Linked DNA regions of Homo sapiens. The protein of the gene in region 1 interacts with the protein of each later gene in a pairwise test. Each region holds a gene or a part of one and is shown in the gene's direction. Other genes may lie near its edges. The genes, in order: KHDC4, UBQLN1, SF1, NRF1, GSN, RHOXF2 and BANP.

Region 1 (3,964 bases):
ATTGAAGCTCCAAGACATCCTAAAGGTTAGAAACCTTTAGCCTCGGCAGGGCGCGGTGGCTCACGCCTGTAATCCTACCACTTCGGGAGGCCGAGGCGGGTGGATCACCTGAGGTCAGGAGTTTGAGACCAGGCTGGCCAACATGGCTAAACTGTGTCTCTACTAAAAATACAAAACAACAACAACAAAAAATTAGCTGGGCGTGGTGGCGGGCACCTGTGATCCCAGCTACTTGGGAGGCTAAGGCAGGAGAATCGTTTGAACCCGGGAGGCGGAGAGTGGTTAGCCGAGATCGCGTCATTGCACTTCAGCCTGGGTGACGGAGCGAAACTGTCTCAAAAAAAAAAAAAAAAAAAAAAAAGAAACCTTTAGCCTACAGAATCAACTCAAACTCCTCAGCATAGCATTCAAGGCCTTTCATCTTCTGGCCTCCCACTCCAGCCAGCTCAACCGTTAAGTACACAGATGCCAGAACAGGGTGCTCCATAACCTATGCTTGATCGCCTCTCCAGTACTCAACCGGCTTTTTAGCGTCCCATTCTTAAACGCTCCAGCAAGATGAGCAGCTTATCTTCTTCGACCTTTGCTTAATATACAACTCTATCATACATATTTGCCTGCGTACCTGCCTTGCCACATTGAGAGTACCAGAATGGCAGGGCCTGCGGCTTATTCATCTTTTTATTTTTATATTCCCTGCTTGGTGCACAGAAATGAAGCAAACAAACAGAGAAATTCTCCAAATGATCTTTGCAACGAATCCTTTTCCTTTTCCTAAGTAACAGAAACGTGAAACGGGCAAAAGCCGCGGGAAGGCTGTCTCCCCAGACAGAAACTAGGACTCAACACAAACGTAGCGGAATTTGAGGAGAAACCTGTTTAATCTCCTGACTCATGCATATTGTCTTCTAGTCTAACAACATGCCCACGATAAAGATGGATTCAGCTAGCCCCGATTCCGCATTTATAGTAGGCACAGCAGCCATCTTTCTTAAGGTTAAGGCGCAACCCGGAAGATCACACCCTACCTGCCTCAGAAACGCCAGATGCCTTTAAATCATCGAGAGTCCAATCGGAATCGACATTTTCACCGGAACCGCTCGGCCCCACGACCGGAAGAGGCTGTGCGTAAGAACGTTGGGGGCGGAAGTGACGAGAGGTGGTAGTCGGATAGTTGGCGGGTGGTTGAGTAGAAGCGGTCGCCATGTCCGCGGGGAGCGCGACACATCCTGGAGCTGGCGGGTACGGCTTCAGGGGCGAGGGCATCGGAGCGAGCACTGGGGCGCAGGAGAGGCGGAGGGACCCTGAGAAGCTGCGTATAGGGTGGAAGGGTCCTTAAGTGGGAAGTAAAGGGCTGGACGTTTGGGGAGAAGGATCTTGAGCAGGCCTGGGGCCCTTAAAGGGCCGGCGGGGATCCGAGGGAGGAGGCAAACGGGGACTTTTGGAAGGGCGAGCCAAGGGGAAGGCGTAAACTAGAGCGTGTAGGATAGAGTGGAGTCTTTCGATATAGGTGACAGTAGAAACGAAAGATTTTGGGGAAGGGTTGAAAGTGGGGGTTTGTTAAATAAGCAATAATTGTTTAAGGAGAGGGGAGTTTTAGATTTGGAAGGTGATTCGGAGGTGTAAATGGAATATAATAGAGGGAAAATGGGGTGCTAAGGCGTAGTAAGGAAAGAATAACATACACGAAAGCTTTGGGGCCTAATGTTTTCCTTTTTCTCCATGTAGGCGCCGCAGCAAATGGGACCAACCAGCTCCAGCCCCACTTCTCTTCCTCCCGCCAGCGGCCCCAGGTGGGGAGGTCACCAGCAGTGGGGGAAGTCCTGGGGGCACCACAGCTGCTCCTTCAGGAGCCTTGGATGCTGCTGCTGCTGTGGCTGCCAAGATTAATGCCATGCTCATGGCAAAAGGGAAGCTGAAACCAACTCAGAATGCTTCTGAGAAGGTATTTGAAGTTGAAGGGTCTCCACTAATTGCGAATTTAATAGTTGTTTTGCCGGGCGCGGTGGCTTACGCCTGTAATCCCAGCACTTTGGGAGGCCGAGGCGGGTGGATCACAAGGTCAGGAGTTTGAGACCAGCCTGACCAACATGGTGAAACCCCGTCTCTACTGAAAATACAAAAATTAGTCGGGCATGGTGGCACGCGCCTGTAATCAGCTACTCAGGAGGCTGAGGCAGAACTGCTTGAACCCGGGAGGCGGAGGTTGCAGTGAGCCGAGATTGTGCCAGTGCACTCTAGCCTGGGCGACCCAATGAGACTCCGTCTCAAAAAAAAAAAAAAAAAGTTGTTTGTAATCCTGTAATCGCATAATAATTTGTGTTAGTAAAGGATAAATGGATATAGTAGTTGAGAGATCATTTAGTTTTGGAATGTTCCAGAACACATTTTGTTACAAATACATATTTACGAGGCGTTTTTGATTGGGCTGATTACATTTATGGACCAAATACCTTGTCTTGTCCTTGTTCACTTAGTTCAGCTTAAGCTGTATTTCCATAGTCATTTAAAGCAACATAACATGTTTTTAATATATGTGCTTTTTCCCTGAAGTCAGAGGAGTTCAGGTAAATCAAGTGAGCCCCATAGTGTCATCTCTAATTAGAACCTGTAGGGTTTTATTTATTTATTTATTTATTTTGATAGAGTCTCACTCTGTCACCAGCCTGAAGTGCAGTAGTGGGGTGATCTCGGCTCACTACAACCTCTGTCTCCTGGGTTCAAGTGATTCTGATTCTGCTGCCTCAGCCTCCCGAGTAGCTGGGATTACAGGTGCATGCCACCATGCCCGGCTAATTTTTTTTTGTGTTTTTAGTAGACAGGGTTTCACCATGTTGACCAAGCTCATCTCTGCCTCCCAAAGTGCTGGGATTACAAGTATGAGCCACCAGGCGCAGCCTATTGTTTGCAAAGATTGTGTGAGTCAGTCATCCATTTATAAGGTTTATGAGGAAAAATTAAAAGCATCTTGACAAAGATGTAGTGCTCCTTGTATATTAAGATTTTTAATACTGATGTTAATCGTTTAAGCTCTTTTTTTTTCTTAAAATAATAATCTTTAGGTAGTTGACCTCAGCAGGATACATAAACACTGGATTTAGAATCATAAAACCTAAAAACCCAGAATCCACAGTTTGAAACCCAGAATCCACAGTTACTGGTTACATGGCTTTGGCATAATGAAACTCAGCTTTCTCGTTGGTAATATATACCTGCATTGTGTAGTGCAGTAGTCACTAGCTTCATGTGGCAATTTAAATTAAAATTAAGGGGCTGGGTGTGGTGACTCACACCTGTAGTCCCAGCTCCTCTGTAATTCTTCTTGGATTCTTGGAAGGCTGAGGTGGAAAGATCACCTGAGCCTAGGAGCTTGAGGTTGCATTGAGCTGTCATTTTGCCATTGCACTCCAGCCTGAGCAGCAGAGTGACACCTTGTCTAAATAATACAAATAATTAAATACTCTCAGGCTCCATATCTGTGAGAAATAAATTCCTGTTGTTTAAGCAAAAAGCAAAGCAAAACCAAAATACAATTTAAAATTTAGACCTTTAGTCACATTAGCCACCTGCCAAGTGCTCAAGAGACACATGTGGCTAATGGCTACCATATTCGACTGATAGACTAGAACCCTTGTCACCAAAAGTTCTCTTGGACAACATTGATAAGTACTATTAAAGGCGGCCATAAGGATTCATTGAGATGATAATGTAAATGAATACTATAAGGGGTTAAATAAAGGTAAGGTGATATTGCTGAGTTTGTATTTAGTTTTGCCTCCACATTTAAAAAATGTATTTAATGCACAAAGTAAACAACAGTATGTTACCTTCTTGAGCAGATTTTCTAGACATAGGTTGGGGAGATAGGCCCCTGTAGTCCCAGCTACTCAGGAGGTTAAAGCGGGTGGGTGGATCACTTGAGGCCAGGAGTTCAAGAACAGCCTGGGCAACATGGTGAAACCCT
Region 2 (4,686 bases), on another chromosome or scaffold:
AGTCTTATACAAGTCTTTTTGTGGTCTTACTCTTTTATCTTTCATGGTTATATACTTAGACTTGGTTTGAGTAGGTCATAGGGCAATTGTATGTTTCAGTTTTGTGAGAAACTATGTTTTAAAAAATGCTTCTGGGCCGGATGCGGTGGCTCACACCTGTAATCCCAGCACTTTGTGAGGCCGAGGCGGGTGGATTGCCTGAGGTTCGAGACCAGCCTGGCCAACGGGGTGAAACCCCGTCTCTACTAAAAATACAAAACTTAGCTGGGCGTGGTGGCAGGCACCTGTAATCCCAGCTACTGGGGAGGCTGAGGCTGAGGCAGGAGAATCATCGCTTGAACCTGGGAGAGGGAGGTTACAGTGAGCCGAGATTGCGACATTGCAGTCCAGCCTGGGCAACAAGAGTGAAACTCCGTTTCAAAAAAAAAAAGGAGTGCTGGCTTCAGCAGCACATATACTGAAAAATGCTTGTATCATTTTACCATCCCGCCAATGAAGATACATGGGAGTTCCTGTTGCTCCATATCCCTGCTAACATTTTGATATTGTCAGTCTCTGTAATTTTAGCTATTTTAGCGGGTGTGTAGCCATATTAAGTTTTAAAGCTCTCGGATCTCTTTTCTAGGATTCCTAATTCATGCCTCCACCATCCTGGGTGCTTTCAGCATTTTACTGCAAAAGATTAGAAATAATCAGTATTTTATAAATAGAAAAATTCCTTTCAGTCAATATATGATGTTATAGCTGTGAGGATGTTTTTGCTTTTTGTGATGTTAAAATTATAAATTCTGTGAACGCTTTTATTTTACTCTGCTGTAACCAAAGTGAGATTTTTTTTTTTTTTTTTTTTTTGAGATGGAGTCTCTGTCACCCCCCAGGCTGGAGTGCAATGGCATGGTGTCGGCTCACTGCAACCTCCCCTTCCCGGGTTCAAGGATTCTCCCACCCCAGCTTCCCTAGTAGCTGAGACTACAGGCGCATGCCACACCACACCCGGCTAATTTTCCTATTTGTAGTAGAGACAGGGTTTCACCATGTTGGCCAGGCTGGTCTCGAACTCCTGATCTTGTGATCCGCCTGCCTCGGCTTCCCAAAGTGCTAGGATTACAGGTGTGAACCACCGGGCACCCGGCCCAGTACGAATTGTTAATAGATAAAATTAAAGTCTTTCTGAAGTAGCCTTTTCTGATGGTAGTTTATTTTTAAATTCTTGATCATTGTTTTATGTTGAAGCAGAAAATGTGATAAAAATTGACGCTTATCACCACACCAGAGAACCTGTAGACAAGTTGGGCTTTGTATATGCAAGGGAAACAGATACAGGAAAATGTGGAAGAAAAAGAAAAGCAGTTTTCAAATGACCTATTTGTAAAATCTACTTGAAGCACAAAAGATATGCCATTTTATAATTTAAAAATTTTAAAGGGTTTGATTGAAACTGTTTGTTACAAATGAAAATTTGTCATTAAAAATACTTAATGACATTAAAATTCCACTGAAAGTGTCCAGTTAGAAATTGGGAAATATTTAGTCTTTAAAATTTGTACCTAATTTTGGAGGGTCAGAGGGTAAGCCGAAGACCTCCAGAGGATAATATTGAAGGCTTATGCTCTGTATCAGACAAATTCCGTTTTCTATAAGTTAAAATTTCTTTCAATAAGTATTTCTATGTAATGTAGATTCCTTAACACATTATACCAAAATTCTGTTTATATGAACATGCTGTAATAAGTGATTAGATGAAATTACGTTAAACTTCTTGGGTAAATTGTAAGGTGGTAATTTATTTTCCTATTTTTCCATTGGTTTCTGGTCGTGAGTACCAACAGGCAGAAACAGGTTGCCTTAATTTTTTACAGTGCTATATACATTTGGTATTTAATAATGTTACTTGTTCAAGGTTACTAATAAAGCTTAAGCTTTTTTCCAATTTAGAGTGAAATTTATTATTCACGGAGCACTCAGAATCAACTGAGTAACATAAATTTTTACTTACAGGTTGCTAGAATAGGTAGTGAGAATATAAACTGCACTGTGTACATTCCAAGGTGCTGTCATTAATAGAGATTTTTGTAATACAGGTTTTGAGTATCCCTTATGGGAAATGCTTGGGACCAGAAGTGTTTGGGACTTTGGATTTTCTTTTTTTTTGGATTTTGGAATATTTGTATATACATAATGAGATATCTTGGGGATGGCACCTAAATATAAACATGAAATTCAGTTATATTTCATGTACATTTTATGCACAGAGCCTAAAGGTAATTTTATACAATATTTTAAATAATTTTGCGAGTGAAACAAACTGTATACATTGAACCATCAGAAAGCAAAGGTGTTACATATGGGATTTTTCCACATGTGATGTCATGGTGTTAAAAAATTTCAGATTTTGGAGCATTTCAGATTTCATATTTTTGGATTGGGGATGCTCAACCTGTATGTAAGTAAATAGATACAAAAGCATAAATGTGTAGTGGCACAAAGTCCCTGTGTATGAGATTTTTTTTTTTTGGTTAATTGTTCATCATCAGCTATTGAAAAGAGCTTTGAGGATTTCCAAGTATCCACGAGCAAGATAACATCTAGAAGAATGGAGAGTTATATATGTGAGACATTAGTGCAGATAATGGAGGGGAGTTTCTGTGTAACTTCTAATTAGCTTATTCTGGGATTTCATAGACTGTTAGGTTATGTGTAAAATTTTGAAGTACATTTACTTGAAATGTTCAGGCAGTATATACTCTGGTTTTAGAAAGTGCCTTCTGTCAGTGCAAACTTCTGGGAAAATATTAATATACTTAGACATAATTTAAACGTATTGAGTCAAATTGAGCCTTTCTTTGATAAGGCAACTTGCCTTAGGGTCATCATCACACACATGATTTAACGTTATACTGTATAGTGTGGATCTAGAACTATACTGTCCACTTTGATACCATCACCCACATGTGGTTAAGTACTTAAAAAGTGAGATGTGTTAAGTGTAAAATTTATACCAGATTTTGAAAATTTGGTATGAACAAAATAAATATCTTAATACTTTTGATATATTATGTATTGAAATAGTATTTTGCAGATCGTGAGTTAAGTAAAATATCAAAATTAATTTGACCTTTTATTAAAAACTTTTTTTTCAGTATGGCTGCTTAAAATTTTTAAATTACTTGTGGCTTATATATATTTCTGCTGGACAACATCTTATCCAGAAGGTTGGATTGAATCAGTATAGCAAGATATCTGAGAAAAAAAATGTCTGTGAGATCATTGTTTTCTTATTTGCTTTGTTCTAATACTGGACAGCTGAAAAACTCGTTATTTAATGATTCTGATTAACAGAGATTGCTTAGCTTTTTTTAAGAAAGAGCGTAATTGAAGTGTAATTTGCCTACCATACAGTTCACCATTTTAAAGTCTGTAATTGATGTAATACATTCACAGGGTCGTGTAGTCAATTTTAGAACGTTTAGAACCCTCAAAAAGAAACGCTGTACCCTTTAGCAGTTGCCCTTCGTTTCTCCCTGGGCCCCCCAGCCTTAGGCAACTACTGATCTATTTTTTGTCTATAGATTTGCTTGTTCTGGGCGTTTGTTGTAAGTGGAATCATGTGGTCTTTTGTGATTGGCTTTCACTTAGCATAGTGTTTTCAAGGTTCATCCCTGTTGAAGCATGTGCCGGTACTTACTTCCTTTTTATTGCCGAATAACATTCCATTGTGTTGCCAACAGCATTCCACATTTTATTTTTCTATCACGTGGTGGACATTGGGTTGTTTCTACTTTCTGGCTATTGTGACTAATGCCTCTGAACACTCATGTATAAGTTTTTGTGGGGACATAACGTTTTCATTTTTCTTGGGTGTAGATCTTGGAGTGGAAATTGCTGGGTCAAAGCTCTATGTTGAGCTTTATGAGGAGCTGCCAAATTATTTTCTAAGGTGTCTGTACCATTTTACATTTCCACTAGCAATGCATGAGGATTCCGATAACCACATTCTCGGTAATACTTATTACTGTCTTTGTGATTATAGCCATCTTACTGGCTGTGAAATGGTATCTTACTGTGATTATTTTGCTTTTTATTTTCATTATTATTTTTGCTGGGGGCACTCTGAGGAAAACTGGACAGCCTGCTAGACAAATTTGCTTTTTGTTATCTGAGCAGTAGTTCTCACTGTGGTTTGGGGAGTCCCCATACCCTGTTAAGGGTACCATGAGATGAAACTATTTTCATAGTAATTCTGAGATGTTATTTTTATTTTTCAGTCTAATTTTCTCAAAACTGGGCAGTGCACTTGGCTAGAGTCTTTAAGGTGTGGGATATGACAACAGATGTGAAAATCCAGCTGTCTTCTATTACAAGACTAAAGTGATTTCCAAAAATTTAAAATAATGCCACTCTTATCACTGAGAAAATAGTTATTTTTCATAAGGATGTTATTTTTATTAATATATAATGTATTATTTTTAAATGAATTTATTTTTAAAGGTTATTCAGTTTTAATTTGTAATATTATAAATATCAACAGCTATAACCTAAACAAGCAAAACTCTTTGGAGTTCTGAAGTTGTAAAATGGTGTCCTGAGAGCAAAAATTTCTGTGGTGGCGTATTTTATAGATTACGTACTTAAAATATCGGGTAGTGGCTCCAATAAGTTGCCATTACCTCTTGCCTAGAAACTGCA
Region 3 (4,686 bases), on another chromosome or scaffold:
TTTCCTTAAAGGGAGCGTGGGCCTCAAACAGCTGTGGTCATGTCATTTCAGTTTGCAGTTTCTCTCACCTCAGAAAAATAAATTGTGTGGGGGAGATGAACTTTTTTAAACTGGAATTTTATTAGCTGATTGAACAGCTAAAATTGGTCATTTAATTAGAAGGGCAGTAAGTCTCTCCCTCTCACTGAATTTTCTCTTAGTACATACAGAATAGTTGAAAAGACTTTGCTTTAAAAAGTAGTGTTTTTGGTTTTTGTTACCCAGTTAATAGCTTATTAAATCAGGAAGATGATGTAATGGCTTTAGAAGTCACTCACTCATGCATCTTTCTTCCGCCCTTTGCCAGGAAACATTAACTTCCTTGTTTCTCCATATTGACTCTTTAATTTGACTTACTACATTTGCTATATTTTACCTATAGATAGATTTTGGTTGTAGGGTTGTGTTGTGTTTCGTTTCTTTTTGAAGATTTTTTTTTTTTTTAAATTTACATTGTAGGTCATAGACCACAACTGTTTAGTGCCTTTTTGGCCTTTTTCCCTTTAATAATATGTCTACAGGTCACCAGTCAATTCCTCCAAAGGTTGAATTTTTAACAAACCTTCTTTGCTTCCTGGATAACTGGGATTAGAATTTAGTTGATCTAGCCGATGCCTGTTGGAGGTGAAGAAGTCGGGCCAGTCTAACCTCTAGAATACTAGCTTTTGCCTTTCACTTCTGCAATTTGGGAGGAGGTTAAACTGTTGTGAGGCCTTCACATGGCCAATTGGGTGCTGGTAAGACTTGTTTTTGTAACTAGCTAAGAATGCTTAATTCTAGACAGCTGTGGGGTGGGAATTAGAAATGTCAAGCATGTTAGAAATAAAACCAGAGCAGGGTTTTTCCTCCCTTCTATTCAGTTTTGAAAGAGGCCCTAATGCCTGATTGGTTTTGCTTTTGAGCCCAGGTTGGAGGGAAATGCATGGGTTTTCTTAATTAAGATAATTTCTTAAAAAGGTGTTATATCACTTAAGCCACTTTATTGTTATTTTGATGCTGCTTAACTTGCACAGTAAAAACATGTTTAAAACTTTTCTTGTAGACTTAAATGTATAAGATGGTAGTCTAATGAGCTGGGGTATGTTTGCTTTTGTTCACTCTTAATGGATTGTGCTAACAGTTTATACAAATGCTAGAAACGGAGGTGTCATTTAGCCGTCATTAGCCATGAACAAACCTGACCTTTTATTCCATCGTGTGTGTAACGTGGTGTGACATGGTTCCCTTTAGGCTGAAGACAGTGGGAGCAGCCGAGTTCAGTCCTTGCTCTCCAACTAGGCAAGGTTCTCTCAACTAAACCAAGGGTATAGGAGTCTTGATTACTTTCAGTATGTTTTTTTAATAACCTGATCCACATGGTCTCTTCCCTTCTTGCAGCTGCTACTAAATTTTCATTCAGAATATCAAGCTATGGTCCTTTTTGTAATCTTAACTCAAAATTCTAGGAGTGTAACCTCTCTTTTTTATTACCGCAAAATCCAGCTGTGGTAAACTGACCATTTTATCATTACATTTTTTTACTTGTAGCAACAGCATTTTACTCCTTAAAAAAATGAGAGAGAGAAAATCTGCTTTCTGGACTTGTAAACTCTGGTGGAGAATCATAGGTTTTCCCCTTGCTGTTTGCAGGTTCAGACCCTAGACAAGTATGACCAAATCTGCATTTGCAGCCTCTCGCAGAAGCTGCTTTAGCACTTTAACGTTTTTCTCTACCCAGACTCCCCAACCTCGAACAGCCAGAAAACAGGTTGTCTCCTGGGCCTTGGACACAGCCAGCCAGGCCATTGAAGGAAAAGCAAAGACGAAGCGAACCATCTCTCTCCATTGTGGGGGCCAAGTAGCTGCAGTAGCCTTCAGTCCCAGTTGCATTGGGTTAAAGAGCTCATACATACTATGTGTTAGGGGTACAGAAGCTTTTCCTCATAGGGCATGAGCTCTCCAAGAGTTAACCTTTTGCCTAAACTTGGGGTTTCTGTGGTTCATAAAGTTGGGATATGTATTTTTTTTCAAATGGAAGAAAATCCGTATTTGGCAAGAAGACTCCAGGGGATGATACTGTCCTTGCCACTTACAGTCCAAAGATTTTCCCCAAAGAATAGACATTTTTTCCTCTCATCACTTCTAGATGCAAAATCTTTTATTTTTTTCCTTTCTCACACACACCCCAGACCCCTAACGTTAAGCCAGCTTCCATCTCCCCATTCCACACGATCTTGAGTAGCACACGTTATGGTCGGTTCCTCCGAAGAGTGTTGTATTAGGGTCTGAGAGGCAGAGGGGCTGGGAAAGACTTGTTATAGTCCGTGTGGGAATGAGAGAAGTCGGTGCAGAATAGTAAACGGGAGTCTGTTTCCCACAGGTCCCCTTCCCCTGAGCCCATCTACAATAGCGAGGGGAAGCGGCTTAACACCCGAGAGTTCCGCACCCGCAAAAAGCTGGAAGAGGAGCGGCACAACCTCATCACAGAGATGGTTGCACTCAATCCGGATTTCAAGCCACCTGCAGATTACAAGTAAGCGGAGGGGCTCGGTCATCTGGGATGAAGACACATGCAGATCATGGGTGACCTGCTGGGATGGGACAGTATTGGTACTACTCACCTCTTGCCTCAAGTCACCCATAATTAGCACTTGGTACCAATATTTGGTTTTAGAAAAGCCGCTGGCTGTGTCATTCTCCAGAAATGTGCGGTGACACAGGCTTTTCTTTCTTAGACCTCCAGCAACACGTGTGAGTGATAAAGTCATGATTCCACAAGATGAGTACCCAGAAATCAACTTTGTGGGGCTGCTCATCGGGCCCAGGTGAGTAACTGCTGGTCTATAGGATATAGAATTCCTTTAGAGCCTGTGAGATGTGTCCGTTTTGTGCCTAATTGGGGACTGTTGGCTTACTTTTCCCCTTTTTGGTAGGACATTTCATTTTGGCTGAATTAATGCCTTTCTGTGAGAAGGTGTCTTAACTTCCCCACTAGTGCGGAGAAGTCAAATCCTCAGGTTTACTGTGGCTGACCATAATATAGAGTTCATGGAGCTCTTGGTGGGAAAATCCAATTCTCTGCGCTTGTGGTTTCCCACCAATGCCAAATTGGTCCAGCCTCTCTTCCCTCTTGAGTGTGAATTTGTCAGGTATAAACTTAGTCATTTCTGCCTCTCTAGAGGGAACACCCTGAAGAACATAGAGAAGGAGTGCAATGCCAAGATTATGATCCGGGGGAAAGGGTCTGTGAAAGAAGGGAAGGTTGGGCGCAAAGATGGCCAGATGTTGCCAGGAGAAGATGAGCCACTTCATGCCCTGGTTACTGCCAATACAATGGAGAACGTCAAAAAGGCAGTGGAACAGGTGAGCGGTGAGCCCAGAAAGGAAGCCTCCTAGCAGAAACCTAGGTGGAGGCCCTAAGCACTTAACTGTCCATTGCATTTTCACTAGATAAGAAACATCCTGAAGCAGGGTATCGAGACTCCAGAGGACCAGAATGATCTACGGAAGATGCAGCTTCGGGAGTTGGCTCGCTTAAATGGGACCCTTCGGGAAGACGATAACAGGTATGTGATCAGTTTAAAGGAGAGTGTAGAGACCTGAAGAACCTATGGAAGTAGAGATTGTTCCCTTGCATTGACCTCTTTTTCCTTTAATAGGATCTTAAGACCCTGGCAGAGCTCAGAGACCCGCAGCATTACCAACACCACAGTGTGTACCAAGTGTGGAGGGGCTGGCCACATTGCTTCAGACTGTAAATTCCAAAGGTGAGGGGCTGGCTCTTGCGGTTTCCTGGTAGCCTGCGATGTGCAGGACAACTTTTCTGGCACATTCATTGGTTGCTGTTAATCTTACCAAGAGAAACATCCTTTCTGTTAGTGTGGTCTGTAATGGTGTGATTTAAAGCCCAGGATGATTAGAAATAGGCTGTACAGATACCCCTGTTTGTTTGTCTTGAGCCCAAGAAAACTGGAAGTTTCCATTTTGGGTATGTTTTTACTGGGGCTCAATAGGAAATTCACTGCTTTTGCTGTTCAGAATTGGTTCAAGAAGACTAAGCAATCTCTACAGATTTCTGACCAGTTGCAAGTCAGCACTCGATATCAACACTTTCTGACTGGCTGGCGAATATGTAAGGTTTTGTTTAGGAAGTTCGTTCTGGCAGTTGTGCCAGTCTTGCATAGATTTTCCTTTCCTCAAACTGGGAATGAAGTTTGATGAAATTGACTTGAGAGAACCTGTGCTTCATCGGTGCTCAGGGTCTCCTGTGCTCTTCGCCCAGGGGCCCCTCTACTCTGGTGATCCCAGATGCAGAACTGGGCACGAAACTGAAGATCTGATGAGACTGTTGAGAGCCATGCCCAGTAAGGGGTTAGAAAGATGTGTGATGATCTGGTGATTGAATTCTTCAGAACTTTCCATATGTTGGTTCCTCAGGATAAAAGCTTCCTTCTTAACAAGTTTTTCCCCTTTCTCTGTTTGTGTCCCCCACCCCACTTCAGGCCTGGTGATCCTCAGTCAGCTCAGGATAAAGCACGGATGGATAAAGAATATTTGTCCCTCATGGCTGAACTGGGTGAAGCACCTGTCCCAGCATCTGTGGGCTCCACCTCTGGGCCTGCCACCACACCCCTGGCCAGCGCACCTCGTCCTGCTGCTCCCGCCAAC
Region 4 (4,686 bases), on another chromosome or scaffold:
TCCAGAACAGTGTTGAAAACACCCCGAGTTTGGCACCTTACATGCATGAAAACTGTAGAAGGGAAATAAGCTATAGTACCAGTAATATCTTGGGAAGCAGAAATTAAACTTAGGGGTAGATATTCTTACTCTTAGAGGAACAAGTCTACAAAATGCAGCCTAAGGTGCACTTTATCAACATATTTATAATTCTCAACCACCCATGGAGATATAGGAACCTATGGAAAACAGTGGGTTTTCATCAGTCACATCTTAGAATTCTCTGGGACCTTCCTGGAAACCTCTCTGTTTTATAAGGTTAGAATTTAAGGAGTCATAAACACACCCCAGATGTCTTTCATGAGTATTGATGACCACACTGTTCTCTTCCAGGCCCAGCTTCGGGCATTTATCCCAGAGATGCTCAAGTACTCTACAGGTCGGGGAAAACCAGGCTGGGGGAAAGAAAGCTGCAAGCCCATCTGGTGGCCTGAAGATATCCCCTGGGCAAATGTCCGGAGTGATGTCCGCACAGAAGAGCAAAAGCAGAGGGTGAGAGTTCCTCTGACTGAGTTGCCTGGTTGCTTTTCCATCCTAAATTAACCACCTCAATTTTTGTCATTTCTACATCTTGTGCTAGAAAGTCTTTGTGTAATAGTTAAGCCTGTCCCTCCAAAGACTGATATTCTTTGATTTATAGCCTTTTCCATTTGTCGCTCCATCACTATACTATAAAGAGAAGACTGGGTTGAGTTGATGAATTTAAAATGTGTCTTCGGGGTTGCCTTTTGGAGCAGTTTTAATTTTATGAAGTGCTTGGGAAAGTCAAAGAAACTTGAAGTAAAAGTATTAATCACTTTGAACACTTAGAAATGCTTTTATTTCTGGTTACTAAAAATCATTGTTGAAAATGTAAATATGGAATTAGAGGGATATGAAGTCTGCCAGCTGAGTCTGCTAATAACAAAACTTTTACAAGAAAGACTAAACTACCTACCATTCCTTACTTTTTTTGCGTATTTATTTTTCTTTTTCTTTCTTTTCTTTCTTTTTTTTTTTTTTTTTTGAGACAGAGTCTCACTCTTGTTGCCCAGGCTGGAGTGCAATGACGTGACCTCGGCTCGCCGCAACCTCTGCCTCCCGGGTTCAAGCAATTCTTCTGTCTCAGCCTCCCGAGTAGTTGGGATTACAGGCATGCACCACCATGCCCAGCTAATTTTGTATTTTCAGTAGAGATGGGGTTTCTCCATGCTGGTCAGGCTGGTCTCGAACTCCCGACCTCAGGCCATCCGCCCTCCTCAGCCTCCCAAAGTGCTGGGATTACAGGCGTGAGCCACCATGCCTGGCCACGTATTTATTTTTCATTTAGCTTGGAAGTTTACTGAGAATCTTAATATGCCATTCTTGATCAGAATAATCTTTCTTTGCAAGAAGTTTAAGAGTTTGGCCTCAGGTTGGAATAGGGTGTAAACTAGACTTTGATCAAGAAGAAACCAATGAGAAGCCCTCTTTGATACTTCGTACACAGCTTCTTTCTACCAGAACCAGTCTGTGGGAGGTAATCCTAGGAGAGTCTAATAAGAGGTTTGGTTTGGTTTGATTTGATAAAGAAGTAGCTGCTTATTGCATATTGGGACTAAATAACCAAAGTTCTTTGTGGCTTAATGTGCTTTTCCGGTCATTTGGTGACAGGTTTCATGGACCCAGGCACTACGGACCATAGTTAAAAACTGTTATAAACAGCATGGGCGGGAAGACCTTTTGTATGCCTTTGAAGATCAGCAAACGCAAACACAGGCCACAGCCACACATAGTATAGCTCATCTTGTACCATCACAGACTGTAGTCCAGACTTTTAGTAACCCTGATGGCACTGTCTCACTTATCCAGGTGAGTAAACCTGAGGGCTACCAGACTGTGGCTTCTGAGATGGATCAGTGGGCACCTCACCTCAGACTAGGGAAAGTTTCCTTTGTGCGAACTCTTGTATGAACTTTATATAGCTCCCCAAGATCTTCCTACCTGAAATTGATTTCTGAAGAATAGTTTAAATTCTTTGCATTTGCTAAATACAGAGCTATGAGTAGCTTCCTGGACATTTCCAAAACAAAGCACTTTTAAAGGGCTCTTTTTTTTTTTGAGACAAGATCTCTCTCTGTCATCACAGCTCACTGCAGCCTCAACCTCCCGGGCTCAAGTGATTCTCCCTCCTCAGCCTCCCGAGTAGCTGGGACTACAGGTGTATGCCACCAGGCCTGGCTGAATTTTTTTTTTTTTTTTAAGTAGAGATGAGGTCTTGCTATGTTGCCCAGGCTGGTCTCAAACTCCTGAGCTCAAGTGATCCTCCTGCCTCGGCCTCCTAAAATGCTGGGATTACAGATGTGGGCCACCATGTCTGGCCTTAAAATGACTTCTGTTTTACAGTTTCACTCTCAGTGATCAGGGAATATTCCTTCTGAATGACCTCTTCTGAGGTAAAACACAATTTGTTGATTGGGAACCTCTAAAGTTCAGATTGAGGTGAGAATAGAAAGTTGGTTGACCAACACTGGGCATGGATGTGGCGATGTGATAGCTTTTCTCATATGGACTTATTTGGTTGAAGTAAAATTCTGAAACTCGTGATAGTCTCTGAACTATGATTTTAGTGAGCTATGATTTTAGATTTCACATCATAAGGCATATTCTTTGTTATCTGTGCTGAATTTGGGATTAAATGAGTCTCAGCTTCTGAGTAAAGAGGTGGAAGGATCCATCCACTGACACTTAACCACTTTCCATATTTTTCTTTAGGTTGGTACGGGGGCAACAGTAGCCACATTGGCTGATGCTTCAGAATTGCCAACCACGGTCACCGTTGCCCAAGTGAATTATTCTGCCGTGGCTGATGGAGAGGTAAGAAAGAGATTCCATCTGCATCTTCTTAAATACTTGAATGTATAATGAGGGAAAAGCAAGGGTCCAGAAGATGGAGTAGCCTGCATGTCTGCGGCACTCTTTCATTTAAACCTTTTAAAGAGCATGAGACCATGAAAGTTTTAGAAAGTGTCTTATGCTATGTGTATTAATTGTAACAATTAAGATTCATGGATTAGTATGTCAGGAACTTAGAATTTTACATTTGAATGTATAGCATTTGGTATTATACACAATACAAAGGGATTATCCCTTTACCATTTTTATGCTGTGAATCCCAAAGAATTTCATCTTTGGTCTTTATGAAAAAAAAATGTCACATTAAAACTGGAACTGACTAAGGGAAGCCTTCTTTGAAAGGATAAATATGTTTGCAAGTCAGTAACATGATTTATTACATCTTAAATATGCCTTTGAAAAGATTTCTTAGGAGAATTCTTCCTTACCAAAATTGGGATAATTATGGGACATTAACCTAAAGACAGCCAACCTTTATTGATCACTTGGTGGGCTAAACACTCAACCCTATGAAGTATAAAGTTCTGTTATCTTCACTTTAGAGATGAGAAAACCGAGACATAACAGAGCTTAGATGATTTGCCCAAAGTCCCATAGCAGTGTTGAAGCTGGATAATGCATTGAGAAAAACATTACCTAGGCTCTGAGCCATTGGTGAAGATGCAACAGTGAAGGAAGGGGTTTGTTACGTCACCATGAGTGTTTCCCTTGAAGATACTGATGTGGTGTGCTGAAGTTTGAAAAATAGCCAACAGATGTCAAAGAGCAGTATCAGAAATAAAGCTAAGAGTATTATCTCACCCTTGTTGAGAGCCATGGAGCATTTCCCCTTAGAACACCACAAAGTCACTTTCATTTGTGCCCCTCAGGAGAGGGGGAGAGCTGGCAAAGGCCACATGGCTGGGAGATGGAGGGAGAGTGCACCACAGGCTCCTTGGCCACCCTGCATGTGCCAAACCCCTGTGTAGCTGCAGCTGTGTGGAGTTGATTCGCACAGGATCCTTGCTGTCATGGGACTCCAGTCTAGTGGGGAAGAGAGATGTCTACGTGAATGAACTCTAGCCTTCCTGTAAGGGATGCTGCAAAGCGTATGTGCCTCCTTTCCACCTAAGGAGCCTGGGAAAGTTTGGGACACTGAAAAACTTGGTTATTGGGTGAGGAAAGGTGAAGGTTGACAGGACACTTACTTTCTAAGTATATAAACATCATTAAAGGATATGGATTAGCAAAGCAAAGAATTTGTCAGTCCCAGAACACTAGAACAAGATGACACTCCTTAAAGTCTGAAAGAGGTGGAAAAGACAACGAGGGGTACAGTTAGGAGATGTGTTAGTTTTTGGCTTAGACAAAGTTATCAACCATATGTCTCTACTGAATGTTTCTTGGTACTATTTAAAGAAAGTAACTTCGTTTCCTTCTGTATAAAATAATTTGTTTTTGACACATAATATTTATAACATTAATGGAGTTGCGTTTCCTTTTTTTTTTTTTTTTTTCCTGAGACGGAATCTCACTCTGTGGCCCAGGCTGGAGTGTAGTGGCACGATCTCAGCTCACTGCAACCTCCGCCTCCCAGGTTCAAGCGATTCTTCTGCCTCAGCCTCCCGAGTAGCACCAGGCACGCACCACCATGCCCAGCTAATTTTTGTATTTTCAGTAGAAACGGGGTTTTACCATGTTGGCCAGGATGGTCTCGATCTCTTGACCTCATGATCCGCCTGCCTTGGCCTCCCAAAGTGCTAGGATGATATATAGTATATATAATTCTGTTAG
Region 5 (4,276 bases), on another chromosome or scaffold:
CTCAATGACCAGATCTCCAGGCACAGGAACGGGGGCAGGGGATGGTGAATGACGGGGTAAGAAGCAGCTTTTTGTATTTTCCTGCCGTGGCCACAGGGTTGTCTGTCTTAGACTCCCCCCTGTTTCAAGGATACCCAGTGTCCCTTGCACACTTTGCACAGTGGACAGCTCACTACCTACCATTCTGTACAATCAGCATGCCATTCCTGATTACGTTCCAGTTGCCTACTATCCCTTTCACGGAGGAAGGCACAGATCTGGACTTGATTCCCAGGATGGTCTGAGCAGCCTAGAGGGGAATGGGACTCTCACCTCCTTTGTTCTGGGCATTCAACTTCTGTTAATGCAGCCCTGATTTTTAGAATCATGTTGGCTAGTCACAGTGCATTAGTGACTCATGGGAGTCAACCAAGGCCATCAGGGTCCAAAGTCTGTGCCCTCAGCTCTGATGGGCTGTGTTCCTCCAAGTCCCCACCTGAGAGCTAGTCCTGCTGCGGGGTCTCCTGGGCTGTGAGGAGGGGGCTGAGGGCTTTTTGTCTGGTTCCTGATTAACCAAGCTGTACCCTCCCAGGTATTGCCTAAGGCTGGTGCACTGAACTCCAACGATGCCTTTGTTCTGAAAACCCCCTCAGCCGCCTACCTGTGGGTGGGTACAGGAGCCAGCGAGGCAGAGAAGACGGGGGCCCAGGAGCTGCTCAGGGTGCTGCGGGCCCAACCTGTGCAGGTGGCAGAAGGCAGCGAGCCAGGTAGGAGCCGGGGTGGGGGGCCTGCTGCTGTCCGGATGCAGCTATTAAGTTTCCCCCTTCTTTCCTTCAGCTTGGGGGCTCTAAATCCTCCCCTCCATCCCACCTGAGGGCCTGTCCCCTAATGTATGTTAAATAAAAGCAGTTGCATTAAAATGAGGGCTGTGGCCAGAGAGAGGGAGGTCTCCAGGAGCTAAAGAAAGGAGAGCCTAGCCTGGGCGTGGTGGTTCATGCCTGTAATCCCAGCACTTTGGGAGGCTAAGGCGGGCGGATCACCTGAGGTCGGGAGTTCAAGACTAGCCTGACCAACATGGAGAAACCCCATCTCTACTAAAATACAAAATTAGCCGGGCATGGTGGCACATGCCTGTATAATCCCAGCTACTCGGGAGGCTGAGGCAGGAGAATCACTTCAACCCGAGAGTTGGAGGTTGCGGTGAGCTGAGATCACGCTATTGCACTCCAGCCTGGGCAACAGGAGTAAAACTCTGTCTCAAAAAGAAGAAAGAAAGAAAGAAAGGAGAGCCCAGTGTGGGAAGGAGCAGTTGGTCTGTGGAAGGAGGCGGTCCCTCGCTAGGAAGCCTTGAAAGGTGGTAGGCAGGGCTGATAGCGTCAGAGGAGCAGTGGTCTCCTTGCATCTCTAGACTCTCCATGGACAGAAATGCCACCAGCCTGCTCTGTTTCCAGAATGTGGGCCGGGCAGCTCTTCCTTCTGCCAGCCTGCAGTCTTTATACTGTTACTTTGAGTTCATTCCCACCTGCTTGATGCTTAACAGAAATGGTGAAGAGTGACTTGGTCTAAAGCAGCTCTGTCCAGCAGAACCTTCTATGCAGATGGACATGTTCTGTATCTGCCGAGTCCAATTTGACAGCCATTAGTCACATGTGGCTGTTGAGCACTTGAAATGCGACCAGTGGGAATTAGTGGGAATGAAGAACTGAACTTTTAGTCGAATTTAATTTTAATGAATTTAAATTTAAATGGCTGCACATGGACAGAGCAGGTATAGTGGAAAGAGTATAGGTGTTAGAATCAGACAAGATTTGTATCCTGGTCTTAACACTTACCATCTGTGTGACCTTGAGTGAGTTGCTTAACCTCTCCGAGCCACAACTGCCTCATTAGCTGAGTGGAGCTAATGGTCCTCATCCCGCAATGCTGTCGTCAGCCTCAAGCCAATAGTGGTCCTGGCTGTGTGACTACTGCCAAGTCTGCCCTCTCTGGGCCTCTATTTCGTCACCTTCCAATTCCCTCAGGCCTCTTCCCTCTGGATCTCCTGGGATTTTTAGGATGGAGGGAGGAGAGGGAGAGCAGTTGGTTGCGCTTGGGCAGGGCTGGTCCCAGGGTCCGATGAGATGGGAGAGAGGGGTGATGGCGTCCCTTGGCAACTGGCGTGGCCTCCCCTCACAGATGGCTTCTGGGAGGCCCTGGGCGGGAAGGCTGCCTACCGCACATCCCCACGGCTGAAGGACAAGAAGATGGATGCCCATCCTCCTCGCCTCTTTGCCTGCTCCAACAAGATTGGACGTTTTGTGGTGAGCCCCTGCGGAGGTCACACCTCTGCTTTCCCCTCGGGAGGCGAGTTCCACAGGACTGGCCGGCAGCAGGGGCAGGAGAAACAGTTCTGATGGTGTGGCACAGAGGAAGGGGCCCCCTGCCAGCTGCAGCCAGCTGTGCCACTCCCTCAGGGGGCAGATAAAGGAAGGCCACCCAGGGGAGGGAAGACATCTCACTGATGCTCTTTCGTTCCTTCCCAGATCGAAGAGGTTCCTGGTGAGCTCATGCAGGAAGACCTGGCAACGGATGACGTCATGCTTCTGGACACCTGGGACCAGGTGGGTGAAGGACAGGTGAAGGCTCTCTGTGCCAGAGGGAGTGGGAGAAACTAGACTTCCAGTTCTATGATCAGTTGCTAGAAGGACCTAAAGGGGGCAGTGCCAGGTGTTGCCAGAAAAGTCTCTAAGGGTACTGGAAGTCACTTCTTCTTTCTGAGCTTCCATTTCCTCATCTGTAAACTGGGAGTGGCGGTACCTCCCTTGCAGATACACTCACCTTGAAAGCTGCAAAACGCCCTATAAAGGCAAATCACATGACCTTCATCATTCTCTCCCAGACCTTGCAGGAGCGTGAACTCTTCCTTTAAATCTGTTGGCAGAGGAAGTTGAACTTAGCAGCATCTTGTTTGCAGGCATAAACTGTCCAGTGTCACCTAGAGGCTCTAGAGGGCTCCTGCTTCTGGTTTGAGGGCTCTGGGCTCTGTCTCCACTTCATCTCCTAGAGAAGGCCATTATGTAGGACTTGGCAGGGGAAGATGCCATTCACTTACTCAACCAATATTAATTGGGCACTGCTTTGTGCCAGGTGCTTTATGTTTGAGATGCTGGGATAGAGCAATGAATAAAGTAGGCATTTTCCTGCTCTCCCAGGGCTTACGTTCTCACAGGGGTGTCAGGTCAGTCACCTTTCCTATCAAGGTGGCTTCTCCCAGAGTCCTCAGAGTTACGGAGCAGCTGGCCACGAAGGCATAAGACTCTACACTACCCACAGGGATGCTCGGAATCCCCAGTTGGAAGATCGGGACCAAAAATGATTGCAGCTTGAGCCATTCAGCAGTTGTCATTGATTGATCCATTGGCTACTTAATCTGTTTGTTCATCTGTTAGGGATTCAGTCAGCCAACATTTATTCAGCACCATGGTCTTGCAGGCAAAATGCTGAGTGCTGAGAATCCTATGATGAGCAAAATAGAATGCCTGCCTTCGAGGGGCTTCCACTTTAGTTGGGAACACATTTATAAATAAGTAAGAGAGGGCCAGACATGTTGGCTCACACTTGTAAACCCAGCACTTTGAGAGGCTGAGGTGGGCAGATCACTTGAGGTCAGGAGTTCAAGACCAGCCTGGCCAACATGGTGAAACCCCATCTCTACTAAAAATACAAAACAATTAGCCAGGCTTGGTGGTGGGTGCTTATAATCCCACCTACTTGGGAGGTCGAGGCAGAAGAATCACTTGAACCCAGGAGGCGGAGGTTGCAGTGAGCTGAGATCATGCCACTGCACTCCAGCCTGGGTGACAGAGTGAGACTCCGTCTCAAAAAAAAGTGAGAAAAATGAAGTCTGACATTTTATTGTCTAATGCCATTTTATCAATGATAGGTGCTCTTTGAAGTAATATTTTAGATATGCATAAAAATAGATGATACATAAAAATCAGCTAAATAATGTGTAATAGAACTTGTAACAAGACTCAAAATGGTGATAGTGGTGGGTGAGTTATTTTTATTCCAAGCCTTAGGCCCATTTTGACAAAGATGCACACAGACCGGCACATAGTAGACTCTCGGTGCATATTTGTTGGATAAATAAATGGGTGAGAATATGTTTGGCCACTCATTTGTTGAACGAGTGAATGCTGTTCAAGAGATAACTCATGGACCTTTAGAGAAGAATCTCAAACTCAATGCCTGATGGTACCTGGTTGGCAATGTTAGCGAATGAAGCAGGCTGGGCTGGGGAGACGTGAAGGAGCAG
Region 6 (3,445 bases), on another chromosome or scaffold:
TCTTGATACACCCGAAAAGGTTAAGGACATAGAGAGTTGCTTGTTGTGTTTTTTTCCATGATGAAATTAAATGCTCAGTATACTAAACCTGTTTCTTTTTTCCTCTGATTGAAGATTTGGTTTGAGAATAGAAGAGCCAAATGGAGGAGACATCAGAGGGCATTAATGGCAAGAAACATGCTGCCCTTCATGGCAGTGGGCCAGCCTGTCATGGTAACCGCAGCTGAGGCCATAACGGCACCCTTGTTCATCAGCGGGATGAGAGATGATTACTTCTGGGACCACAGCCATTCCAGCAGCCTGTGTTTCCCCATGCCACCCTTTCCTCCTCCGTCCTTGCCCCTTCCACTCATGCTTCTTCCACCTATGCCACCCGCTGGCCAGGCTGAATTTGGCCCATTCCCTTTTGTTATCGTGCCTTCTTTCACATTCCCCAATGTCTAAGGGATAGCCTCTGTGCCACTTTTTGCCAGAGTGTCTTTGAGCCAGATTCATATTTTGCATAGCACCCCATCAAAAGTAGTTCATCAAATGTCTATTAAACGTTTTAAAGAAAAGTACATCATTGACCCATTTTTAGGGCACTTGTAAAAATGTTTCTATAAATATGTGAAGGGTATGTACATTTGTTTTGTGTGTCACATGGGGTCAGTAAGTTCTCAATAAAAATTGTTAAGAAATGCCATTCAAACCGAATGTCACGGACTCTCGTCTCATGCAGTAATCTTGAGTCACCATCTGGGGGCTGTGCATGTCACAGAATTTTCCCATGTGCCCATGGCAGGCTTACACCGACCCAGACATTCTCTTCCACCCCCACCCCCAACACCCCATACTCATCTCCTCTCTGCCCCCATTGATACCAGGTACATGTGCAGGATGGGGTGGTGTGAGTCCCTAATGAGAGAATAGTGTGTTTCAAGTTACTGCCAGGGTGGAAAACAGCAAAACCAAAATGGTATCGGGAAGGAAGCCATGCCCACTCTTAAAAATTCATTAAGTTTTTTCTTGCTATGGAAGACTTCTTTAAAGTAATTTTCTTGTAAAAGTGTAAGTGTAAATAATGCCATGAAATTATACACTTATTTAATGGCTAAAATGGCAAATTTTTATATGGTTTACCACAACAAAAGAAAAGAAAAAATATACCAAAAAGTTTTTAAAAAGTGATCATGAACATTGTGGTCATCCTGTGAAGTGATTGCAATGCCTGCAGATAAGGAGTGATGGTTACAACAGTATTTTCTCTGAAAATTATTTGATGGCCAGTTTCATAATGATTATGTTTTCAGCCTGAAGGAAAATTCCATTTTCTTGGGTGAGCATGAACTTTCTGTCAGGCTGTCTGCTGCTTTTCATTCCCCACTTCTCTCTTCACAATTGTGGGTGTCAAGCTTCAGCCACGCAATTGCATTTGGTGTGAGGGTTTTGCAAGGAGAAGGAGGTTTATTCATACCCCTGAAGCCACAAGCCTTGGTGGGAATAAGGAAAGTCCATGAATTCACTATGCATTAATGCATGCCTCTTGGCCAAGTGGATTCTTTTTTCTTCTCCGATTGAGATTTTCCTTTTTTTTTTTTTTTTTTTTTTTTGCTCTTGTTCTCATTGTATTGTGCTTTGTATAATTATTTACAGTAAGTCGCGCATGTCAGTGTACATTCCGTCTGGAAATTGTTTCCATTTGGTACATTTTGTGCCAGTCGGTCTATTCCTGCTCATTATTTTGTTTTTTCTACATTCAGACTGAAACATTTGGTAGCCTAGAGATACTCAGAAATAGGCAAAGAAAGGTAAAAGGGGAGGAGGGGAGATTGAAATCATACTTCCATTATCCCTCCCCGTGGTTATCAGATTCATAAAATTTTTACACCATCAAAAGACATTTTTAGCCATATATGTTTCCTTTATGTAGAAAATGAGATCTCCTATACTCAGTTGGCATTTGTTTTCATGTATCTGATAAGTACCTGTTAGAATTATAGGTCAAGATGTTGTCTAGCTCTGGTAACCTAGATCCTGAACTTCAAAGCAGAGTTCTTGGACCTTAAGAAATTCAAATTCGTAGAATTATAGTTAGGATGTCATTTACTGACCTTGAACAACACATTGTTTAGGTAGCATACAATGGGACTAGTTCAAGGGGCTGGGTGGAGAACAAGTTACAATTTTTTCTGATGGAGAACATTACTGGAGACAGTACCCTTTAAAACTTTCATTCCCTTTTTATTAGCAGCTAACGTCTTGTATGCCTTTACTATGTGACAAGCAATAAAATAATGTCCTTGGATGATTTTGTTTGATGCTCAAATGAATCCTAATAGTGAGGTTCTAGCATCTTCATTGAAAGAAGAGGAAACTTATCCATGGTGCAAAGCTAATCAGAGGAACAGGATCTGAAGCCAAATTTGTCTGCCTCCAGAGCCCATGCTTTGTCAAGTTTAATTCAGCGGTGGTGCACTGGGATGCCACAGTTAGGGCAATCTGGCTTCCAATCCCAGATGCACCACTTCCCAGCTGTTTCCCCCTGGGCATTTTACTTAAGCTCTGTAGTATCATTATTATTCTCTATAAGATGATAATATTATATCACAGAATTGATGAGAGGGATAAATAACATATGTAAGTGGCCTTCCACAATGCCCAGCCAGAGTAAGCACACAGAAATGTTTTCTACTATTATTCTATATTATCTCCTATCATCATATTATTATAACCTGTTGTTCCACCTTTCCTATGTGGTATAACAGAAAGAGATCTGATTAAAAATAAGGTGGTCTGGGTTCTTGCTGCAGCTCTACGCTGTCTTTGTTACCTTGAATGAGTCGCTTAACCTACTATATCTCTGCTGTCTCATGTGTTAGGCCATTCTTGTTTTGCTATAAGGAAATGCCTGAGGCTGAGTAATTTATAAAGAAAAGAGGTTTAGTTGGCTCACAGTTCTGCAGGCTTAACAGGAAGTGTGATGCTGGCATCTGCTTCTGGTGAGGACCTCAGGAAGCTTACAGTCATGGTGGAAGACAGACTGGGAGCAGGCATCTCACATGGTGAGAGCAGGAGCGAGAGAGTGGGTGTGGGAGGTGCCACACACTTTTAAACAACCAGATCTTGTGATAACTCGCTCACTATTGCAAGGACAGCATCAAGCCATGAGGTTTCCACCCCCATGACCCAAACACGTCCCAACAGGCCTCACCTCCAACATTGGGGAAAATAAGGATTACATTTCAACATGAGATTTGGGCAGAGACAAATATCCCAACCATATCATCTCACCTATGGAATCATGACAGTAATAGCATGACTCATGTATTTGGAGTAGGTTTAGTGGTAAAAGTTTATCAGGCATATTTCAAAAAATCAGAAAAAATAGGAATGAATGCCTTATGAAAAAAATCATTTCACGCATTGTTTTCTAGAGTGTGGGGAGTACCATTCATGTTTATAT
Region 7 (3,377 bases), on another chromosome or scaffold:
GTACCTCGGGCTGCTGTGGCCCTAGCGTCCACGAAAACAAAGCGCAGGGCTGCTGTGCTCTGTGGATGGCCCAGCGGGCCCAGGCCAGCATCTCCATACCTCGCAGGCAGAAGCCCCCGAGGGTGAGGCCGTGCCGAAATCTCCAGCGTGGCCGAGGCCCAGACAAGAGCCCCGTGATGCCGTGGGCTGTTTGCTCTGAACACTGGAGGCAGAAGGTGGCCCTGCATCCGGGAGCAGTCTTGGCCCCGCAGCCTCCGTGCCACCTGCTTTGGGAACGTGCCCAGCGGGGACGTTGTCCTTGTTCTACCTCCAGCCTGGTGGTTGGCTGCTGCCCAGCCCTTCTGGAACATTCTGGCCGCTGTCTTTGGGTCTGTTCCGCTCCTTTCTGTGGACCCAGCGCTGGTGATCCACCTGTGTCTTGATGCCATCCACCTTCAGTGCTTAGAATTAAAATCCTAGATGTCTGAGCAGCCTTTCCCTGCTCCCCGGGCACTGCTGAGGGCAGGTGTGCCCCTCAGCCCTCGGGAAGAGAGGGGTCCTCCTCAGGAGGCGCTTGCTGAAGAAGTGGGCTCGGTAGAGCTCACGCTCACCAGGGTGCGCAGGTCGCCAGGCTGGGCGGTTCTGCAGTCCCTCAGCCGCGACAGCCGTGTGATGATGTCAGTGCTCACCTGACGCTCACGTCTTCACAGCGGGGCAGCTGCGGGCCCAGAGTTTAAGGACCCGTGTCCTGTAGAAGGTCTGGCCCCTCCTCTGGCCTGAGCATTCCTGCTGTGCCCATGGGCACGGTGGCCCCTGCAGAGGCACGCCCTGTACTCTGCCCATGGGCGCGGTGGCCCCCGCAGAGGCGCGCCCTGTACTCTGCGTGGTGTTTGGTTCCACATTGTCGCCGACCTCACTGGAGATGCGCTGGAAGCACGGTGAGGGCCATGGGCGCAGAACGCACAGGCAGTGAGGAGCGGGTGGGTGGGATGGTGAAGGCAAACTCGTTCGGCAGCGCTTATTTTATGTGGTGTGAACCTTGGCCTGTCCGTGAAGAACAGTCAGGCGTGGCTGCCTCAGCCCCTGCCGAGGACGCGTGGCAGCCCCCCGTGCCGTTCCAGATAGGAGCGCTGCAGGAGGGCAGTGAGGTCCGCGCCCAGGAAACTAGATGTGGGGGCCATGCCTGAGGGCGTCCTGCTGCATTATAAGTTTCTGGTCATTTTCCGATTTCAGAATTGAACAAACCTGTGTCCCATGGTTGGTGTTTACACCCCTAGCTTCCTGTAAGCTCTCTCTGTTACCATGCCCTCCTGGCAGGCCCCAGGTGAATGATTTAATTAGGATCCATCGTAACAGCCAAGGAAGACGGCGTGCTTAAGGGGCCGCTTTCCCTGCAGAAAACCCCAGCGTGGTTGGACTTGGTGGTGAGCGGGTTTGCCCATCTGAGGCCAGACAACTGCAGGGTGCGTTAGCTTGTCACCAAGGGCCCAGCTCTCTGCCTTACCATCTCAGCTTGTCCTCAGGCTAGCTCTGCCCCACTGGGAAGTGACCGAAGGCCTTCATGGTGACTCTGCAGGCGTGACTGCACCCAACAGAGACAGGTTTCTGGTTGAGCCTCCTTATCCACATGAAGCCCCCACCCCAGTCATGCTTGGGAATGGTCTTGCATCTTGCATGGGTCAGAGCAGGGTCACGCGCTTGAGCTCGTTCTAGGAAAACCTGTGGCTCAGCTGTGAGGGCCTGGCTCTGAGAAGATGGGTTCCCTTAGGAGGGAAGGCAGGTAGCTGGCCTGTGGGGGTGGCCAATCCTCAAAGTGGAGAGTGGGGCCTGTTCCCTGGAGCAGTGGGTTGGGAGGGTAGGGGGGTGCCATTTGCAGGGGAAGACACTTGTCTTAATGCGCGGTGGCCTGTGGGTGTCACAGGCTCCCTGAACCATCTGTAGCAGAGGCAGCACCTCCACCAGCCTCTGCCCAGAACACAGGTCTGGCCACTGTCCTTGGAGGGCAAGTGAGTCCCAGCCAGCCCAGACCTGTGCCCCACTGTCCCCACCCACCCAAGTCCCCAGCTGCCTTTCCAGCTGTCTGGGGGAAGGGGCTTTGCATCCCAGGCGGTGGCCCCCCTACCCCAACCTCCCATGGCCTTCAGCCACCCACCCCAGGGCCCTGGTGTGGCTCCTCCATTCCAGCTGAGGTTCACCCCTTCCCGTTAGGCCTTCCCAGCTGTGGCCGGGCTCGCAGGAGACAGTCCTCATACTGACCCCTCATCCTACCCTGGAAGGCCCCTCCTCCATCCAGGGAACAGTATATCGAGTGTCATTTGACATTTGTCTTGAAAAAGCACAACCTGGACCAGGTGCAGTGTTTCATGCCTGTAATCCCAGTGCTTTGTGAGGCCGAGGCAGGGGCGTTGCTTGAGCCCAGGACTTCAAGACCAGCCTGGGCAACGTAGCGAGACCCCCATCTCTACAAAACGTAAAAAAATTAGCTGGGGCCGGGCACGGTAGCTCACGCCTGTAATCCCAGCATTTTGGGAGGCTGAGGCAGGCCAATCACCTGAGGTCAGGAGTTCGAGACCAGCCTGCTCAACCTGGTGAAACCCCATCTCTACTAAAAATACAAAAATTAGCCAGGCATGGTGGCAGGTGCCTGTAATCCCAGCTGCTCGGGAGGCTGAGGCAGGAGAACTGCTTGAACCCGGGAGGCGGAGGTTGCAATGAGTCGAGATTGCGCCACTGTGCTCCAGCCTAGGTGACAGAGTGAGACTCCGTCTCAAAAAAATTTAGCCGGGCGTGGTGGTGTGCACTGGTGGTCCCAGCTACTTGGGAGGCTGAGGTGGGAGGATCACTTGGGCCCATGAGGTCGAGGCGGCCGTGAGGTGTGCTTGCACTACTGCACTCCAACCTGGGCAACAGAGCAAGACCCTATCTCTAAAAAATAAAATGAAGCAGGACCTTAACTAGAGTAGAAGTTGCCAGGCCTCTTCCTCCCGTGGGCTCGGCCGTGGGCTCGTGGCTTCTCCTGGCTCTTCCTTTGTGGTTCCTGTGCCTTCCAGCTGAAGCTTCTGGGAGTGTGCACGGCAGCCCTAGAGTGGGCTCCTCCACCTGGGGCGTGTTCCGTGTGGCTGAGCTGGAGGATGAGTGACTTATTCCAAGACTGTATGTTTTTCCTTTACTTTTTTTTTTTTTTTTTTGAGATGGAGTCTGGCTCTGTTGCCCAGGCTGGAGTGCATTGGTGCAATCTCGACTCACTGCAACCTCTGCCTCTTGGGTTCAAGTGATTCTCCTACCTCAGCTTCCCTAGCAGCTGGGACTACAGGTGTGCACCGCCACACCGGCTAATTTTTGTATTTATTGTAGAGACGAGGTTTCACCATTTTGGCCAGCCTAGGCTTGAACTCCTG

What was found.
Region 2: the proteins of KHDC4 (region 1) and UBQLN1 interact in binary tests that used the Homo sapiens proteins (3 or more experiments, as listed by UniProt).
Region 3: the proteins of KHDC4 (region 1) and SF1 interact in binary tests that used the Homo sapiens proteins (3 or more experiments, as listed by UniProt).
Region 4: the proteins of KHDC4 (region 1) and NRF1 interact in binary tests that used the Homo sapiens proteins (3 or more experiments, as listed by UniProt).
Region 5: the proteins of KHDC4 (region 1) and GSN interact in binary tests that used the Homo sapiens proteins (3 or more experiments, as listed by UniProt).
Region 6: the proteins of KHDC4 (region 1) and RHOXF2 interact in binary tests that used the Homo sapiens proteins (3 or more experiments, as listed by UniProt).
Region 7: the proteins of KHDC4 (region 1) and BANP interact in binary tests that used the Homo sapiens proteins (3 or more experiments, as listed by UniProt).

The regions. Positions count from the first base shown.
Region 1 is NC_000001.11:155,931,614-155,935,577, reverse strand, and holds the start of KHDC4 (KH homology domain-containing protein 4), read left to right. Parts: upstream 1-1,164; 5' UTR 1,165-1,204; coding exon 1,205-1,242; intron 1,243-1,728; coding exon 1,729-1,945; intron 1,946-3,964.
Region 2 is NC_000009.12:83,700,991-83,705,676, reverse strand, and holds part of UBQLN1 (ubiquilin-1), read left to right. Parts: intron 1-4,686. UniProt on the Homo sapiens protein: Plays an important role in the regulation of different protein degradation mechanisms and pathways including ubiquitin-proteasome system (UPS), autophagy and endoplasmic reticulum-associated protein degradation (ERAD) pathway.
Region 3 is NC_000011.10:64,768,121-64,772,806, reverse strand, and holds part of SF1 (splicing factor 1), read left to right. Parts: intron 1-2,398; coding exon 2,399-2,551; intron 2,552-2,753; coding exon 2,754-2,843; intron 2,844-3,197; coding exon 3,198-3,381; intron 3,382-3,468; coding exon 3,469-3,584; intron 3,585-3,677; coding exon 3,678-3,785; intron 3,786-4,520; coding exon 4,521-4,686. UniProt on the Homo sapiens protein: Necessary for the ATP-dependent first step of spliceosome assembly. Binds to the intron branch point sequence (BPS) 5'-UACUAAC-3' of the pre-mRNA. May act as transcription repressor.
Region 4 is NC_000007.14:129,708,703-129,713,388, forward strand, and holds part of NRF1 (nuclear respiratory factor 1), read left to right. Parts: intron 1-372; coding exon 373-531; intron 532-1,671; coding exon 1,672-1,869; intron 1,870-2,772; coding exon 2,773-2,874; intron 2,875-4,686. UniProt on the Homo sapiens protein: Transcription factor that activates the expression of the EIF2S1 (EIF2-alpha) gene. Links the transcriptional modulation of key metabolic genes to cellular growth and development.
Region 5 is NC_000009.12:121,326,737-121,331,012, forward strand, and holds part of GSN (gelsolin), read left to right. Parts: intron 1-571; coding exon 572-746; intron 747-2,154; coding exon 2,155-2,279; intron 2,280-2,501; coding exon 2,502-2,579; intron 2,580-4,276. UniProt on the Homo sapiens protein: Calcium-regulated, actin-modulating protein that binds to the plus (or barbed) ends of actin monomers or filaments, preventing monomer exchange (end-blocking or capping).
Region 6 is NC_000023.11:120,163,344-120,166,788, forward strand, and holds the end of RHOXF2 (rhox homeobox family member 2), read left to right. Parts: intron 1-114; coding exon 115-444; 3' UTR 445-2,287; downstream 2,288-3,445. UniProt on the Homo sapiens protein: Transcription factor maybe involved in reproductive processes. Modulates expression of target genes encoding proteins involved in processes relevant to spermatogenesis.
Region 7 is NC_000016.10:88,072,598-88,075,974, forward strand, and holds part of BANP (protein BANP), read left to right. Parts: intron 1-3,377. UniProt on the Homo sapiens protein: Controls V(D)J recombination during T-cell development by repressing T-cell receptor (TCR) beta enhancer function. Binds to scaffold/matrix attachment region beta (S/MARbeta), an ATC-rich DNA sequence located upstream of the TCR beta enhancer.